Regions from separate parts of the Homo sapiens genome. Here region 2 is linked to region 1. The links come from fine-mapping of genetic effects on gene expression. Tissue or cell type: lung. Region 1 holds a variant in brackets; the other region holds the start of a gene. All regions are shown on one strand. Distances are between the middles of the regions.

Region 1 (8,000 bases):
AGGATGGAAAAACATACCAAAAACGTGAATGAGTGACAAGAAGGCTGGACTGGCCACCTTCACACCAGACAAAGCAGAATTCAGAGCAAAGAATATGATCAGGAGTAAAGAGGCCATTTCACAGTGTTTATCAGGAGGTCAGAAGACTCTCAAACACGTATGCGCCTGATAATAGAGCTTCAAAAGACATGAAGCAAAAATGGATAGAACTGTAAGCAGACATAGACAAATCCATAAAGTTGGAGATTTCAATAATAGATAAAGCAGGTAGATAGAAAATAAGGAAGGATGTAAAAGAGCTGAAAAACACTACTAACCAACATGATCTAATTAACATTTATAGGCAGTTTGTGACAATTTGATTATTTGTCAATCAAACTACAATCAAAGTGATCAATAGTGTCATATTGTCATGCAGTAAAATGTGACCATTTGGTTATCTGGTGTTGTTTTCCTCATATTTTTTGTGCTTGGAGTTCGCTGAGTTGCTTGAATCTATAGGTTTATCATTGTCATTACATTCGGAAAATATTTGGCCAATATTTCTTCAAATATTGTTTCTGTACCTCTCCAGGATGTGAGGAGGCTTACACGGGTACGAGTGCTGAGCCCTGTCTGGGGTGGAGGGTGTGTGAGTCAGTACTAAGTATCTGTTACCCAAAGACTCAGAAAGACTTTTACTTTGGTTTCTCTAAAATGGGGTTTTCCCAGTAACATCAGAGTTCAACACTGTTTGGCTTCTGGATTCAGGCTGTTTCAGAGATCTGCTATTGCCCAACACACCCCAAGCCTCAGTGGCTTAGAGCAGCAGCATCTTTCTCCTGGTCCTGTGACAGGTTCTGCTGGGCAGCTCCTCTTTCTCCTGGTCCTGTGATGGGCTTCGCTGGGCGGCTTCTCTTTCTCCTGGTCCTGTGATAGGCTCTGCCGGGCAGCTCTTCTGCTGAGCAGCTCCTATTTCTCCTGGTCCTGTGATAGGCTCTGCTGAGCAGCTCCTCTTTCTCCTGGTCCTGTGATGGGCTCTGCTGAGCAGCTCCTCTTTCTCCTGGTCCTGTGATGGGCTCTGCTGAGCAGCTCCTCTTTCTCCTGGTCCTGCAATGGGCTCCGCTGGGTGGCTCCTCTTTCTCCTGGTCCTGCAATGGGCTCCGCTGGGTGGCTCCTCTTTCTCCTGGTCCTGCGATGGGCTCCGCTGGGTGGCTTCTCTTTCTCCTGGTCCTGTGATAGGCTCTGCCGGGCAGCTCTTCTGCTGAGCAGCTCCTCTTTCTCCTGGTCCTGTGATGGGCTCTGCTGAGCAGCTCCTCTTTCTCCTGGTCCTGCGATGGGCTCCGCTGGGTGGCTCCTCTTTCTCCTGGTCCTGCGATGGGCTCCGCTGGGCGGCTTCTCTTTCTCCTGGTCCTGTGATAGGCTCTGCCGCCGGCTCCTCCTTCTCCTGGTCCTGCGATGGGCCCCGCTGGGCAGCTCCTCTTTCTCCTGGTCCTGCGATGGGCTCTGCTGCCGGCTCCTCTTTCTCCTGGTCCTGCGATGGGCCCTGCTTGCTGGCTTCTCTTTCTCCTGGTCCTGTGATGGCCTCTGCTGGGCAGCTCTTCTCCTGAGCAGTAGCAACTTTCTCCTGGTCCTGTTATGGGCTCCCCTGGGTGGCTCTTCTGCTGCACGTGGTGTCAGGTGGGGTCATTCACGAGCTGATAGCTAGGCCGGGAGGTCCAGGAAGGCTTCACTTGTACTGGAACCTAGTGCATCTCCCGGTGGCCTTGCCACATGGCCACCATTGGCTTCCTCACAGCTTGGTGGCCTCAGAGTAGAGGGACCTTTAATGGGGTTGGAGCTGCCTCTTCAAGGACTGAGCTTGAAAGTTCAGAACATCACTCACGCTGCATTCTCTTGGCCAAAGCTGAGTCCCAAGGTCGGCTGGGATTCCAGGGGAGGCGAGCCATGCTCAGGAGGGGCAGTGGCCACTACAGCTGAGCCTGATGCTCTTCTCTTTTTAACACAGCATTGGGTCATGTCAGCCCCATGTCTGTTACATTTGTCACCGTCTTTATCACTCAGTGTCATTTTTCTCCATCTGCAGTTGCCTTGGTGGGAAGTGGGGGTTCCACGTCCACAAAGGCATCGCACTGTGTCCCTGCTGTGGCCCTTTCCCAGGTGAGGTTCTGAGAGCCCGTGGCAATTACCACTTCGGGACACAAACATCCAAGGGCCGCTTCCCACGGGGACGCTTGTGATTGGCTTGTTCCTGGAACACATGGGACCTCCTTCTTCATCCCAAGACCCTCACCTGATAAGCATAAGCAGCCCCCGCTCCCCTCCCCGTCAGAGCTCAGCCGACACACGTCAGCAGCCCCAGCATGCAAGAGGGAAGGAGAGGTTAAAGTCCCCCACCCCAAAAGCCAGACCAAGAGCTGGGACTTCGGGTGTGGGCCTAGCCCTGGAGATGCTTGTTCCCAACACCTGGCCAAGCCTGCTGCCTCCTGCATGGGTCTCGCCGCAACCCCAAACACACAACAAGCAGCCTAAAAGGGAAGTGGCAGACCAGGCATTCCGGTTCTTCTCTGGCTTTTCCCTGTGGGCACTAGGGGGTGGGTCCCACATGGGGCACTCAAGCCCTAACAGACGACACTCATTCTCCCCCAAGATCTGCTGCCTTCTAAGTCCCTAAACAGGTGTCATCCCCTTCACTCTTTCCTCATGTTTTTCTTATTTAAAATTGTCTTTTTAGGAGAAGTTTGCAGGCTGTTTCCTGAGGTCTGGGCCAGCAGCACCGCCATGCCCTGACCCACCATTCCCCTGGCCGCGGGCTGAGTGTCCCAGCTGCACGGGAACTCCTGGCCTTGCCTGCAGCATGCGACACTGCCACACCCACCTCACGGCTCACAGCCAAGTTTCAGGTCATGATGTTTTCTCCTAGCCTCAGTGTAAACAAAAATAACTCTTTGCCCTCTAAGCAAATGAGCAGAGGCCTCAGGACCCTCCCCAGCCCACGGCTCTTGGGGTGCACTGGGGCCCTGTGCCCGGTCACCCCCTCGGGTGTGCACATGGCCGCCTCTCCTGCGCTTCCCACACCCCCACCCCGGAGCAAGCGCTGCCCAGCACAGCCCCTATGTGCGCTTTCTGCCACCTGGGGGCCCCGACTTCCACGTAGCCTCTCTGGACCCTGGGAGTCCCAGGACCTGGGTGCGGATTCTGAAGCGTCTGGGGGCCGCCTCCCTCCCTGCAGGGCGTGTTCATTGTTGTCCCTAGTGGGGTTTCTGCGGCTGTGCCAGGCCCAATGGCTCCCGCGGGCTGTGCTAGCAAGGCCTTCAGCCCTGAGCAGCATGCGGGCAGGCCCCTCCACAAAGGCAAGCAGAGCGTGCAGCATCGTCCATCTAGGGCACTCTTCCCACCACCACCCTGGGCTCACCGACTCACACAGCCCTGGCAGTGCCACTCTGGATCCCGTTGTTGGGGGCTTCCAGAAAACAGCGTGTGGGGGCCTGGGCCCCATTTGCCAGTGGGGTGTTCTCACTCCAGACAAGTCTGCACAACCACTCTGACTTGATTGATGGATCGACTGTCTGATACAAGGTCTTGTTCTGTTGCCTAGGCTGAGTGCCGTGGCACAGTCGTGGCTCACTGCAGC[C/G]TCTACCTCCTGGGTTCAGGCGATCCTCCTGACTCAGCCTCCTGGGTAGCTGGGGCTACAGGCACGCACCACCATGCCCAGCTAATTTTTTATTTTTATAGAAATGGGGTCTTGATAAGTTGTCCAGGCTGGCTTCAAACTCCTGGGCTCAAGTGATCTGCCTGCCTTGGCCTCCCAAAGTGCTGGGATCACAGGCATGAGCCACCGTGCCTGGCCTTGATAGTTTTGAATTATGGTGCAGGGCAAGTTCCCACCCTTCCTCCTGGCTGGGCTGCTGAGTGGGACCCTAGGTGTGGGGACTTCTCTGTGCCTTGGCCTGGGAGGCTTCCAGGTCCCCACAGCCAGGTCTTGCGCTTAGAGCCTTGAGCTGGGCTCGGGACCCGGGCCCCATTCCTGCTGGTCCCCAACCGGCACGTCCCCACCCACGTGTCCATCCCCAGGGAAAGGGCATCCTGAGCCTGAGGGGCCGCCTGTGGACCCCGGCTCTTGGGGGTTGCAGCTTGGCCGCCTGTGGGCAGCAGGCGGCGCGTTCTCCGACTGCCTGTTCTCCGACTGCCTGTGTTCTCAAGTTGGGCACGGGGTTTACAGGTGTCGTCTCTCCTTCAGCTGGGGTGTGTATTCTTTGCTTTTAGATGGTAAAGATTTTAAGACAAAAATGAACACTTTGCTTTTGCTTCAAAAGCTCCCTGAATGTCTCTTGGCCCCTCTTAGCGTGGCAGGTGGGCTCCACGTGTGCAGGGCCAGGCGGGCCGGGGGGATCCTGTGTGCAGTAGGAGCCGGGGTCAGGGGGCCAGGGACCCACAAGCCTCTCCCTAGCCCCGCCCCCCGAGATCGGCCAGGCACCTCACGGCCCCTCCTGTCCCTGCAGACCCAGCCGATGCCCAATCCTGTGGCGTACTACCTGCACCACTCACCCTGGTGGTTCCATCGCTTCGAGACGCTCAGCAACCACTTCATCGAGCTCCTGGTGCCCTTCTTCCTCTTCCTCGGCCGGCGGGCGTGCATCATCCACGGGGTGCTGCAGATCCTGTTCCAGGTGAGCCCGCGCCGCCCGCCCTGCCCCGTGTCCACAGAGACGCTGGCCCGTCGCCCTATTTCTGGCTGCCCCGCTCTCTGGGAGGACCCTGGGGCATTACAGGCCCCCTTTCTTGGGGACAGCCTGTCCTCCCCAGCCTTCGTTTGTGTCACGGGCCCCACTGCAGCCCTGTCCCGGGCTGCAGGCTGAGGGTCTCCTTCCCAGGCTTCCTCCAAGGACTGGCTCCTCCCAAGAGCGTTTCCTGCAGCTGCGAGAGGCCCGGCCATGTCCTGGGCTCGGCAGTGGGACGGGGTCAGCACGCCAAGGCCCTGTGTGGACACCCCCACATTCCTGGGATCCACTCCTAAGATTCTTCCATTCTAGAGGTTTCCTTTCAAGTGTTCATGTCAGTCCACGGGGAACCAGGGTCTGAGAGAGGCCAGGGTCATTTGCCTCCATGTGGGTGAGGGGCTGCCTCCCCCAGCCCCCGGAACCCCGGGTACCCCCTAACGCCCCGTCCTGCCCACAGTCACCGCCATCCCTGCCCCACAAGCCCCCTGCATTGAGGGCGCCTCGAAGGACAGAGCACCCCCACGCTGCCTCCAGGGGGGCTGGGCCAGTCCCGAGCCTTTGCTTTTCCCTGTAAACGCTACATTCCGACTGTCAATTCCCAAGGAAAATGTGGTGGGGATTTTAAAGGTGGTTCTCTCTCTCGATTGTTTCAATGGAGGTGTAACATACAGCCAGGAAAATGCACAGGTCCAGGTGGCGTTCCACGTGCTCTGGAAAACAGATGTACCTGGGTGTCCCACGCCCCTTCCCCTGCCCTGCCCGCCCCTGCCCCCGCCCTTCCCCTGCCCTGCCCACCCCTGCCAGAGCACCGCCGCCTAGAGGGGCAAAGCTCCGTCAGCAGGCACGGGTGCCACGCCACGTTGGTGCACGTGGGGGCGCCCATGGTTGTTGGCCGGGTCCTGTTTCACGGTGCGTGCCTGCGGTCGGTTCACCCGTCCCGTCTGTGCACGTGTGGTAGTTTCTGGTTTTCACCACAGCCTGCCGTGCAGAGGTGCAATCTCGTCATCCTGTGGATGTATTTTCAAGGGCGCTACTGTATCGTGAGCAGGCCTGTGATTCACCTTACTGGAAGCTGCACGTGTCCAGGGTGGCTGTGCTGTTCTTGACCCCTCCCCCCAGCAAGGACCCTCACTCTGGCCGCCGGGGCCCTGAGCAGCTCCTGACTCCCTCGGGCTTTTCCGCGTTAGCTGCTTGGAGGCTGGCACCGGTGCCCATCAGGTGATTTCCCTGTGGGCATCGATGTCGCCGTGAATCTAAGTGGGAAGAACGGACTTGCTCACAGATCGTCCCCCAGCCAGGACCGCACGTTTCTCTCTGCAGCTGCTCAGGGCTCCTGGAATAGCTTCAGTCGGTTCCATGTAGCCGGACCCCACGCGTGTTTGGGGGCTCCTGGAATAGCTTCAGTGGATTCCATGTGGCTGGACCCCACGCGCGTCTGGGGGCTCCTGGAATAGCTTCAGTCGGTTCCGTGTAGCCAGACCCCATGTGTGTTTGGGGGCTCCTGGAATAGCTTCAGTGGATTCTGTGTAGCCAGACCCCACGCGCGTTTGTAGGCTGCAGCTCTGAGGTGACTTCTTTTTGTTGATGTTGTAAATGGTGCCCTTTTAAGTCACACTTCCTCCTCTTGGTGGCTAAGTGTGGGACTCTGGTGACCTTGACCTTTCTCAGACAACCTCTGCACTGGTACTTCCCCGTCTGTCTGCGGGTCCCTCAGAGACGCGTCCTGTGGGTGATCTAGGGATTCTGCCGGTTCTACGTCCATCCCTTTCTCCCCTGCTGGGCGGGCTCGAGTGCTGTCCTGGGTCTGGGGTCCCACAGCAGGGAGGGCCCGCCACCCCGCGCACTGCCTCTCACGATGCCGGCTGTGGGTTGTTTTCGTGGCTGCTTTTATTCACTTCTCCTTTGTGGGTTTTTAGCCATGAATGGATGTTGAGTTGTGGCGTTTCTCCATCAGTCACGAGATGACTTGTTGTTTCGTCTGTAACGTGGCGAGTTACATTAATGCTGTGGATGCTGAAGCAAGTTCACATTCCCAGAACATCTGAGCCTCTTCCTCTGCGGGAGTCTGGAAAGCAGAGGTGACCGTCCCTCACACCTGGCAGTGCTCCTGCATGAGGCCACCTGCGCCGCCAGGGTCTCTGTGACTGATCACCCTTGCGGGCCGTAGGACACGCAGAGTTTCCATTCCTTCTTGACTTGAGGCAGTTTTTGTGGTGAACATTTCCCTGGGAATTTGTTCATCTGTTTTCAAATCTTTTGGCAAAAAAAGTCATAGTATTATCTTAGTTTTATAGCCTCTCAAGTAGCCGGGACTACAGGTGCCACCACGCCGAGCTATTTTTCATTTTTTGTAGAGCTGGGGGTCTCGCTATGTTGCCCAGTCTGGTTTTGAACTCCAGGGCTCGAGCACTCCTCCTGCCTGACCTCCTAAAGTGCCGTGACTGCAGGTGTGCGCCCGGCCTCAAGGCCTGTGTCCTCACCGACACGCATCTCCTGAGACAGCGGGGAGCAAGGTCATGCTTAGGGTCAGCGTGGCCGTCTTTCTCTTTTAAGTAACAGGCCCGTATATCTCAACTGACATATTTGGACGTATTTCCACATCTTTGTGTTTTTCTCTTTGTTCTTTGTATCTTTCTCTCTCGTTTTTTTCTGTTATTTTCCCTCCTCTAATGGATAAGGAAGATCCTCTGTTTCCTCAGTGGTTATCAATCAATCAGCCATGTTAACTTACTGAAGGTCTCAGTTTGGGCAGCATCTTTGCCACCATGACCCCCCGAGGTCCTCAGCCCGCCCAGCCCGCCTCTGTCCAAGGTCCTCAGCCCACCCAGCCTGCCTCTGTCCGCCCCAAGCCACTTGCGTCCTTTGCTCCAGTGTTTCAGCTCTGTTTCGTTTTATTAATTGACTTATTTTAGAACACTTTTAGATTTTCGGAAAAACTGTGCAGAGACTACAAAGGTTCCCTTATCCCCCCCTCCCAGTTTCCCTGCGCTCAGCGTCTTGCATCGGCCAGGACCTTGTATAGTTGATAGGCAGGACTGATAAACTGTTGCCAACTAAAGTCCCGGCTGACAGGAGAGCCATTCGCAGTGTTGCTCATTCTGTGAGCTCCGACAAACGGACGACGACACGTGTCCCCATCACAGCTTCATGCAGAGTCGCTTGTGGCCCTGGAAGTTCTCTGTGCCCCGCCGACCCTCCGTCTCCACGGTACTGCCTCTTCCGGACATCCTAGAGTGGGAAGCATTGTGCAGCCTTTGCGGACTGGCTTCCTGCCCTCCGCGGCCGCGCGTGGGCTCCTGC
Region 2 (8,000 bases), 91 kb before region 1:
ATGCCCTCAGGCGGGTACGAGGGGCAAAGTGGGAGCAGGGAGCGTGCTTCCTCTGTGGCCTTGGTTCAGACAACAGCCTTCAGCAAAGCTTTGCTCTAGAGGCTCATAGGAAGGGACAGAGGGCACAGGCCCAGCTCAGCCTTTCCCCTGCCTTTCTTGGGGCCTGGGCATGGACAGCACCGCCTGGCGACACACAACGGTGGGCTCTGAGGCTGTTTGTTACGCAGCATTAATGTGGCCGTCGGTGACCGCTACACGGTGACTGATAACTGCACTGTGGGTAGAGCTCAGCCCGCAGGGCTCTGGTTTGTGACCTCTGGGCCAGGCAACTCTCAAGGCTTCTTCCAGTGCAGAATATGATTCCTAGAGAAAAAAAAAAAATTACACATTCGTTTCCTAACATAGGGCCCTGCAACCGGAGAACACCACCACATTGGGAGCTGTGCTTTCCACTGTCTAGAAACCATGGCTTGCCAGCTTGCAGGGTCACATGGAGCCGCATCTCCTTCTGGGGTGCAGGGGTGGGAACACTCGTGACCTGTAGCCGAGGGTGCAGGGAGAGGACAGGGTGAGCCAAGCAGAACAGCCGTCTGTGAGTCATCGTCCCAGGACAACCAGCAAATGGCACAACACCTGCTCTCTCAGCCCCCACCCGCACCTGCCAGCCTCACGTGGGGGGTGGGGGGGTTGGCCGCTGGACAGTCACAGCAGGATCTGCCCAAACTGACCACCCTTCCAGGAGGAGGCAACAGATGTTAGCATCCACGGGTCCTGGGCCCCCCTTCCATACCCAGACTTCAGGACATGAAAAATTGGGGTAAATGAAGGGTGCACGATTATCTTCGGGCCCACACTGGCTTCCTGCGGGTGCCAGAGACAGCTGCCACCGCATGCCAGGGACAATGGCCCCGAGGAGGCGGGAGCTGCCAGGCCGGGGTGCTGGGGGACAGCTGGACGAGGTGCCGACAGGGGCTCATTCCTCCCTGAAGCCGGCCCGCAGCTGCTGGGAGCGTGGCCAGCCACGGGCTTGTGTGTGCCTGGGTCCTGGGGGCTGTGCTGGCGCAGGCCGGGACGGCGGGGACAGGGTCCCACCTAGGGCAGGCTGGTCGGTCTCCGGGGAGGCAGCCCAGTCTTCAGCCTGCGTGCTCTTGGGGTGTCCGTCCCTTCCTCCCCATTCTCCTCCTCTTCTCAGCGTCTTCTCCCCCAGCACCGGGCAGCCCTGGGGTGGCCGAGCCTCATCTCCACTCCCCTCCCTCAGGCCTCTCCTGGGTCAGCCTGGCTTTTTCTCTTAGAGTTTTTGCTTGACAGGGCACTCTCAGGACGCCCTCCTCCTCCTCCCGCCTCGGGTTGGTGTGAGGCGCTCAGGGCAGGGCCCACGTGCCTGTGGTCACAGGACACTGAGCTGCAGGGTGAAAGGACCACACCTGGCCGATCTCCCGGCCGCTGCAGCTCACTCTGGGTTTGCAGAGAAGCCTGTTTTTAAGTGAAGTGCCTTCTTAGAGAATAAGACACACCTGTATCTAAATGTTATTTTTAAACTGCTAGATGCGCCTTAATATAGACAAAGAAGTAAGGTGAGCGTAAATGACATGATGTATTCCGACAGGTGACAGCGCCTTCCGGGCGATTCTGAAACACCAGTGCAGGGCTGTCTGTTGTCTTTTGTTTTCATTTTACTTTTTTTTTTTTTTTTTGAGACAGAGTCTCGCTCTGTCGCCCAGGCTGGAGGGCAGTGGCACGATCTCGGCTCACTGCAAGCTCCAGCCCCCGCGTTCACGTCATTCTCCTGCCTCAGCCTCCCGAGTAGCTGGGACTACAGGCGCCCGCCACCATGCCCGGCTAATTTTGTTGTTGTTGTTGTATTTTTAGTAGAGACGGGGTTTCACCGTGTTAGCCAGGATGGTCTCGATCTCCTGACCTCGTGATCCACCCGCCTCGGCCTCCCAAAGTGCTGGGATTACAGGCGTGAGCCCCGGTGCCCGGCCTCATTTTACTTTTCTAAAATTCGAGGCGAAATTCACATAGCATGAAATAAGCCATTTGCCAGTGAACGACTCGGTGTTTAGCACCTCACAGTGCTGGGCAGCCATCGCCTAGTTCCAGAAGATTCTCATCAGCCCAAAAGAAAACGTCCTACCCCCGGACCACTGGCTCCCCACTCCCCGTCCCCAGACCTGGACCACAGAGCTCCCTCCTTTCCCCGTGGCTTTGCCCACCCCGGACATTTCATGTAAATGGGCTCACGCAACTCATGACCTCCGCGTCTGTCCTGTCCCACTGAGCTTGATGTTCTGAGGTTCATCTGTGTTGTAGCACGTGTCAGAACTGGATTCCTTTTTATTTTATGTTTTATTTTAGTGAGACAGAGTCTCGCTCTGTGGCCCAGGCTGGAGTGCAGTGGCGCGATCTAGGCTCACTGCAACCTCCACCTCCCGGGTTCAAGCGATTCTCCTGTCACAGTCTCCCGAGTAGCTGGGATTACAGGTGCCCGCCACCACACCTGGCTAATTTTTTTGTATTTTTAGTAGAGGCGGGGTTTCACCATGTTGGCCAGGCTGGTCTTGAACTCCTGACCTCAGGTGATCCACCTGCCTCGGCCTCCCAAAGTGCTGGGATGACAGGCGCCCGGCTCCTGGATTCTTTTTGATGGCTGAATCATAACCCAGTGCACTTTTGATTAAATTCAGGCTGAAATGGGCACGACCAGAGCTGCTGGTCCACCTCTCCCCGGCCCAAGCCCTGCCCCCGGTGACCTGCTCTGGAGCCATTCTGGGCAGTGGATGGGACCCCTGCGGTCAGCGTCTCAAGAGAGCAGACCCTGAGGGAAACTTGAGCTCAGAGAGAACAGGAGCTCCCAGCAGACCCTTCCGCTGACTGCTCCCACCCTGGGCAAATGCAGAGCCGGAGCCCGGAGCGCTGGAAGCTGGAACAAGAGGCCCTTTTCTGCTCTGCACAATGCCCCATTGTGCCCTTCGCGGGGAGAGCAGCTCGGCCCAGCGAGGGGAAGCTGTGCACAAAGCCTCCTTGTGAGGGCAGCCCCACCTGAGGACAGCGCAGGGCCACACCTGACGCAGGGCAGTCCCTCTCGCCGTCCGTCCCCTAGCAGGCCTGGCACCCAGACAGGGCCCGCTCTGCAGGCGTGGTCCCAGGGTGTGGGGCTCCCTGTTCCCCACAGATGAGGGGAACAGTGTGGGCTGTGCCGGCCCTTCCTAAGCTGGCCCCCAGGTCACGAGGAGAGGTACGGGTCGTGGGCTCTGTGGAGGGACTTGGGTGCCGGGCGCCAGCCAGGGCCGATGCCTCCTGCGATCCCCAAGGCTCCGAGCCCTCAGGCACACACCACGCTCCCGGAGGCTGGGCCAGCATGCGGAGGATGTTTGTGTGTTCGTACCCGTTGCAACATCTTTAACAGGGTCCCATTTCACAGCTGGGCTCCTAAGGGGGGTTTCATAGAAAAGAAATGGAAACTAAAAATGAATTAAACCATAAGATGTACACGTATGCTACGGCCCCAGCAACACAGGGAAGGTGGAGGCTGAGAGGAAGCTCGGGCCACTGCTGGTCAGGCCTGGATTTGGGGGCCCGATGTCCACAGTCAGTCCCTGCCCACACAAGGCTCACACTGCAGGTGGTGAAGATATAATTAAACAGGTAATTAAACAAGCAATAAAGACGGGTCATTTGACCAACCCAGTGGCGATAATTGATACGCCAAAACACTAGGAAAGCTAGAGAGGCAAAAGAGAAGAATACATGAAAACAAAAACAAAAAACCAGGACAAATATTTCCAATATACACAAAAGAACAGGATTTTTCATACGTAAAGAGTGCTGACAAATGAATAAGGAGAAATCTGCACTTCCACCTAAGTGCCCCACAGTTTATTCACTAACCCCTAGGTCTCCAATGCCTACTCTAGCCTCACGCCCTTTCTTTCCTCTAAGGAATGCCTGTGACCCCAGCCCTTCCTAGCACCCGCTTCACATCAGCCTCCAGAACCCCGCTCCAGTCATCAGAGTGTAGAGTGCTGGCGTCCTCCTTCATGTTCTGTTTGGGGCATTGGGCAGTTAGCCCTTCCCTCCTGAGTCCTGAGTCCCCCTCTTCCCCCACAGCTTGAAGTCCAGTCCCAAGGGCAGGCAGGAGCTGGGTTGTGCAAAGGCGGAAGGGTGCTCAGGCTGGGAGAAAGGGGAGGGTCCCCCGAGCATTCCAGGCACAGCCCTGCCTACTCTGTCCCTTGCTGGCTGCGACGATCGCCCTAGCACCCTCCTCCGCAGAGAGTGAGTGTCAGCTGTGAGGCAGGGGCACGCAGTGGTAGCACCGCCAGGGCCTGTGCAGCCCACCTTCCCCAGGACCACAGCTGGGAAGGCGCCTGGCTGGGGGAGGGCACCTGGCCTCTGCAACTCGGACTGACGGAAGGCACGCGTGCCTGCCCCAGTGAGCTCGGGTCGGGCGACGCGCACCACCTCCCAGGTACCCGGCCCCGCGCCCTACCCGCAGCAGCGCCCAGCGAGAACTGCGAAGGAGGCAGGCTCCGGGCACCCGCTCCCGCGCGTGGGCGGGGCCGGCTGGAGGGGGCGGTGCCTCCGGGACTGTGAGCGGGGCCTCCCGGGGTGTGGGTGGGGCCTTCGGCCGTGGGCAGGGCCGGCCAGGGAGAGGCGGGGCCTCCGAGAATGGGCGGGGCCTCCGAGAATGGGCGGGGCCTCCGGGAGTGCGCCCTCCCCGCACATGCGCCCTGACAGCCCAACAATGGCGGCGCCCGCGGAGTCGCTGAGGAGGCGGAAGACTGGGTACTCGGATCCGGAGCCTGAGTCGCCGCCCGCGCCGGGGCGTGGCCCCGCAGGCTCTCCGGCCCATCTCCACACGGGCACCTTCTGGCTGACCCGGATCGTGCTCCTGAAGGCCCTAGCCTTCGTGTACTGTGAGTGCCGGGCGGGCCCGGGACATCCGCCAGTGTCACCTCCGCGCACCACGACCCCCGCCCTCCCTCGAGACTCCTCCGCGCGGTCTCGCGGCCGCGGCGCCCCCACGCAGCCCTCCTTCCTGCTGGGGCCCGGGCAAGGCGGGGCGGGCAGGGCAGGACAAGGCTTGCTGGCGACAGCGCACCCGGCCCTACCCCTGTCGCCGCCTCGAGCCTCCGGCCTGGGCTCCTGGGCTCCCGGTTCCACCCGCAGCCCCGAAGTTGCACGGCCGCGCCTGCCAGGACCGGCTCGGGGCTATGCGAGGCGGGGCCGGCCCGGGCCCTGGCCCAGGAGTTCCCAGGAGAGCTGGGCAGGTGGAGGGTCACCCGTCCGTGCGCAGGTCGGGGGTCTGCGTCCTGGCTGCGGGGCGGGGGGCGGCCTGGAGAGGCGAGGCGCTCCTGCTGTCCCCGACACAGCGCTGTGCTGACGGTGAAGGTTCCCACTGTAACTGGACGCCCGCACGCCACATCCCTGCCGCGTGCGGCCCCTGCCAAAATCCGAGGAGCCGGCCCGGGAGCCTCCTTCGCGTCTCCCAGGGGCTGAGGGAAGGTGACTGGCTGGTGGCCAGACTGGAGTTTCTCCTTTAGTGTTCTCGACTAGCTCAGTCTGCGTTCGGGAAGATTCCCAGCGGAGGTCTGGGGGCAGCTCCGGAACCTCATCTGCAAGTGAAGCCTGCGCCTCACTGTGGGATGTGGTTGGCCGGGTCCACTGGCGGAGACCCTTCACCCCACAGCTGTGCGGGGCCCGCGTGCGCAGCCTACAGAGCAGAGCTCTGAGAAAAGTCAGTTCACGCTCAAAACCTCTGGATCCCCTGGCCAGGGGCAGCTGGCGATTCCAACTCCCTCTCTCCCCAGTCCCTACAACCCAGAACTGGTTTGGAAGAGAACGGTTCTGTGATCACGGTGACATGTGATCACACGGATACATGTTTCATAAGCCCAACGTGTCAGGAGCTACGAACCTCAAGTGAGGCTCTCAAATGAGTATGGAAGTGAGGGGAGCCTGCCAGGCCGAGATGCAGCCAGCGGGGCGCGTGGGCAGTCACCGTCCCAGAGGGCTCCGGAGCTGCTGGCCCCGGGCGTTGCCCACGCGTTGGTTGTAGGCCGTGGGCATTGGACGTCTCCCTTTCCTTCCATCGTCTGCTTCCCTCACGTGTGGAAGGAAAGGGTCAGGTTGCAGAAGTTCTTCTTTGCACAGCCTTTGTGCCACACACGTCGCGGGAAGTTTGGTAGCCTGGTTGTGCTGGAGTGATGCTCAGTTCGACGTTTTGTGTGACATTTGTGTGATACTTTCCACCTCCTGGTGCAAAGTGATGAGACGCGCTCATCACTACAAGGTTTCCTGTGGGATTGCAGTATCGGCTTCAACTGGGTCTGTGTCTCTCTCTCTCTTTCTTTAAAGCAACTATTTTATTTTATTTATTTATTTTTTTCGAGACGGAGTCTCACTCTGTTGCCCAGGCTGGAGCGCAACGGCACCATGTCGGCCCACTGCAACCTCCGTCTCCTGGGTTCAAGCGATTCTCCTGCCTCAGCCTTCCGAGTAGCTGGGATTATAGGCACGCACCACCATGCCTGACTAATTTTTAAAAATATTTTTAGTAGAGACAGGGTTTCACCATGTTGGCCAGGCTGGTCTCGAACTTCTGACCTCAGGGCCTCCCAAAGTGCTGGGATTACAAGCGTGAGCCACTATGCCCGGCCTGCAATTATTTTAAAAAGTAGTTCTTCCCAGGTTGCTTTTCCCTCCACAGTATTAAACAGTCATTTTAAATGTTGGTGCTGTCACTTAGCAAACGATGAAGTAGAGATAAAGTGAAGCTGTGAGGCTCTAATAGGCCTTCCACAGGGGAGCCCGAGATACAGCAGGAAGTCCCAGCGGCCTTGCCTCCGGAGCACAGCTTCATAAAACCAGCTCAGACTCTTTCAAACGAGCTGAGGCTCCTTTGATCTCCGCAGGGATTCTCTGTTCAATTCAGAAGGAACTGCTTTTAAGCCACTGGGTCAAGCGGATATTTTAAGCCTGGTGCCCAGCATTGAACATTTCTCCTTGACATATGCACGTTCTTCTGTCTTGTGAGTACATTTGGGGTAGAATCAGTGTTTTTCTGCTGTATCAAGGAACCAGTTTCCCATCTTTCAGGGACATGGTTTTCTGGCTGAGCTGGCCCAGGGCAAGCAGGCAGTCATCCTGCATTTATCTCCTTCTAGAAAGTTCTGGATTTTACTGGGACTGTGCGCTACTCCCTGTTCCTCAGAATCCCAGGGTTTTTCCAAGTTGCCATAGGGGCTCTCCAAATATTTCACTTGATACTGAATTTTACAATGTTTATAGCTATTGAAACACTTGTAATTAAACACATAACCAAATGTATTCTGTGGAAACTCCCCTTGTTAAAAGACATTGAACTGAGGGAGGCTTACCCTTAGGCAGATTGTCTCAGCAGACATGTAGTAAAGATGTACAGATCAGGAGAACACAGAAACGCCTGCCCTGTCGGGGAAGCTTCGAAGCCAGACCTGGAGAGGCCGGCTGCCAGCGACAGGCCTCTGCATTCAACCTGACTTTGCATCCGTCCTGGGGCTGGCTCCTTCCCACCGCGGGCCTGGGCGTTTCCATGTGCTGCCACCGAGGTGTGTAGGTGCTAGGGGTGTGCTCACTGCACACAGACGTGCATACCGCGGGCGTCCTGGGGTGTCGGGCATGCCCTGCTGTGCTGTGGGAGCCGGAGTGTGTTAGCGGAAAGCGGCATTTTCACAGGGCTCAGAGTTGAAGACACACCTGTCTTCCTGACGTGTGGACTCGGGTCCCTAGTGTGATTACTGCGTTGAGCAGATGCTGAAGTAGCACCCTGCCCGGTGCTGACCTCCTGGTGACAACGCCACTACCCCCAGTGGACAGCGAGGAAGCAGGGTCAGCCACTGGCCCGGCTGTGCAGCGATTGTCCGTAGGCCCTGGAGTTCAGCCCTGCCCTTCATTCACGCCACTGTGCAGCCTGCGTATCCTGGACACCCGGTTCACATCTGGGCAGCGGCGTTCTCGGG

The links. PIP is the estimated chance that this variant, and not a neighbour inherited with it, causes the effect.
Region 2: LMF1 starts here. The variant in region 1 is fine-mapped to the expression of LMF1 in lung (TOPMed, PIP above 0.99).

Annotation. Positions count from the first base shown.
Region 1 is chr16:876,219-884,218 of GRCh38, reverse strand. It overlaps LMF1 (lipase maturation factor 1), which reads left to right. Exons shown (of 11, transcript NM_022773.4): 6 at 4,482-4,649. Among named protein-coding and RNA genes, the nearest start is that of LMF1-AS1, 41 kb to the left of the region's middle. The variant C/G (reference allele first, on the strand shown) is at 3,614.
Region 2 is chr16:967,704-975,703 of GRCh38, reverse strand. LMF1 (lipase maturation factor 1) reads left to right here and starts at 4,720. Exons shown (of 11, transcript NM_022773.4): 1 at 4,720-4,916. The coding sequence starts at 4,724. It overlaps LOC124903620 (a long non-coding RNA gene), which reads right to left and starts at 1,635. Exons shown (of 2, transcript XR_007064935.1): 1 at 1,093-1,635; 2 at 1-363. RefSeq lists enhancers at 2,551-3,541, 5,524-6,515 and a silencer at 4,309-5,478.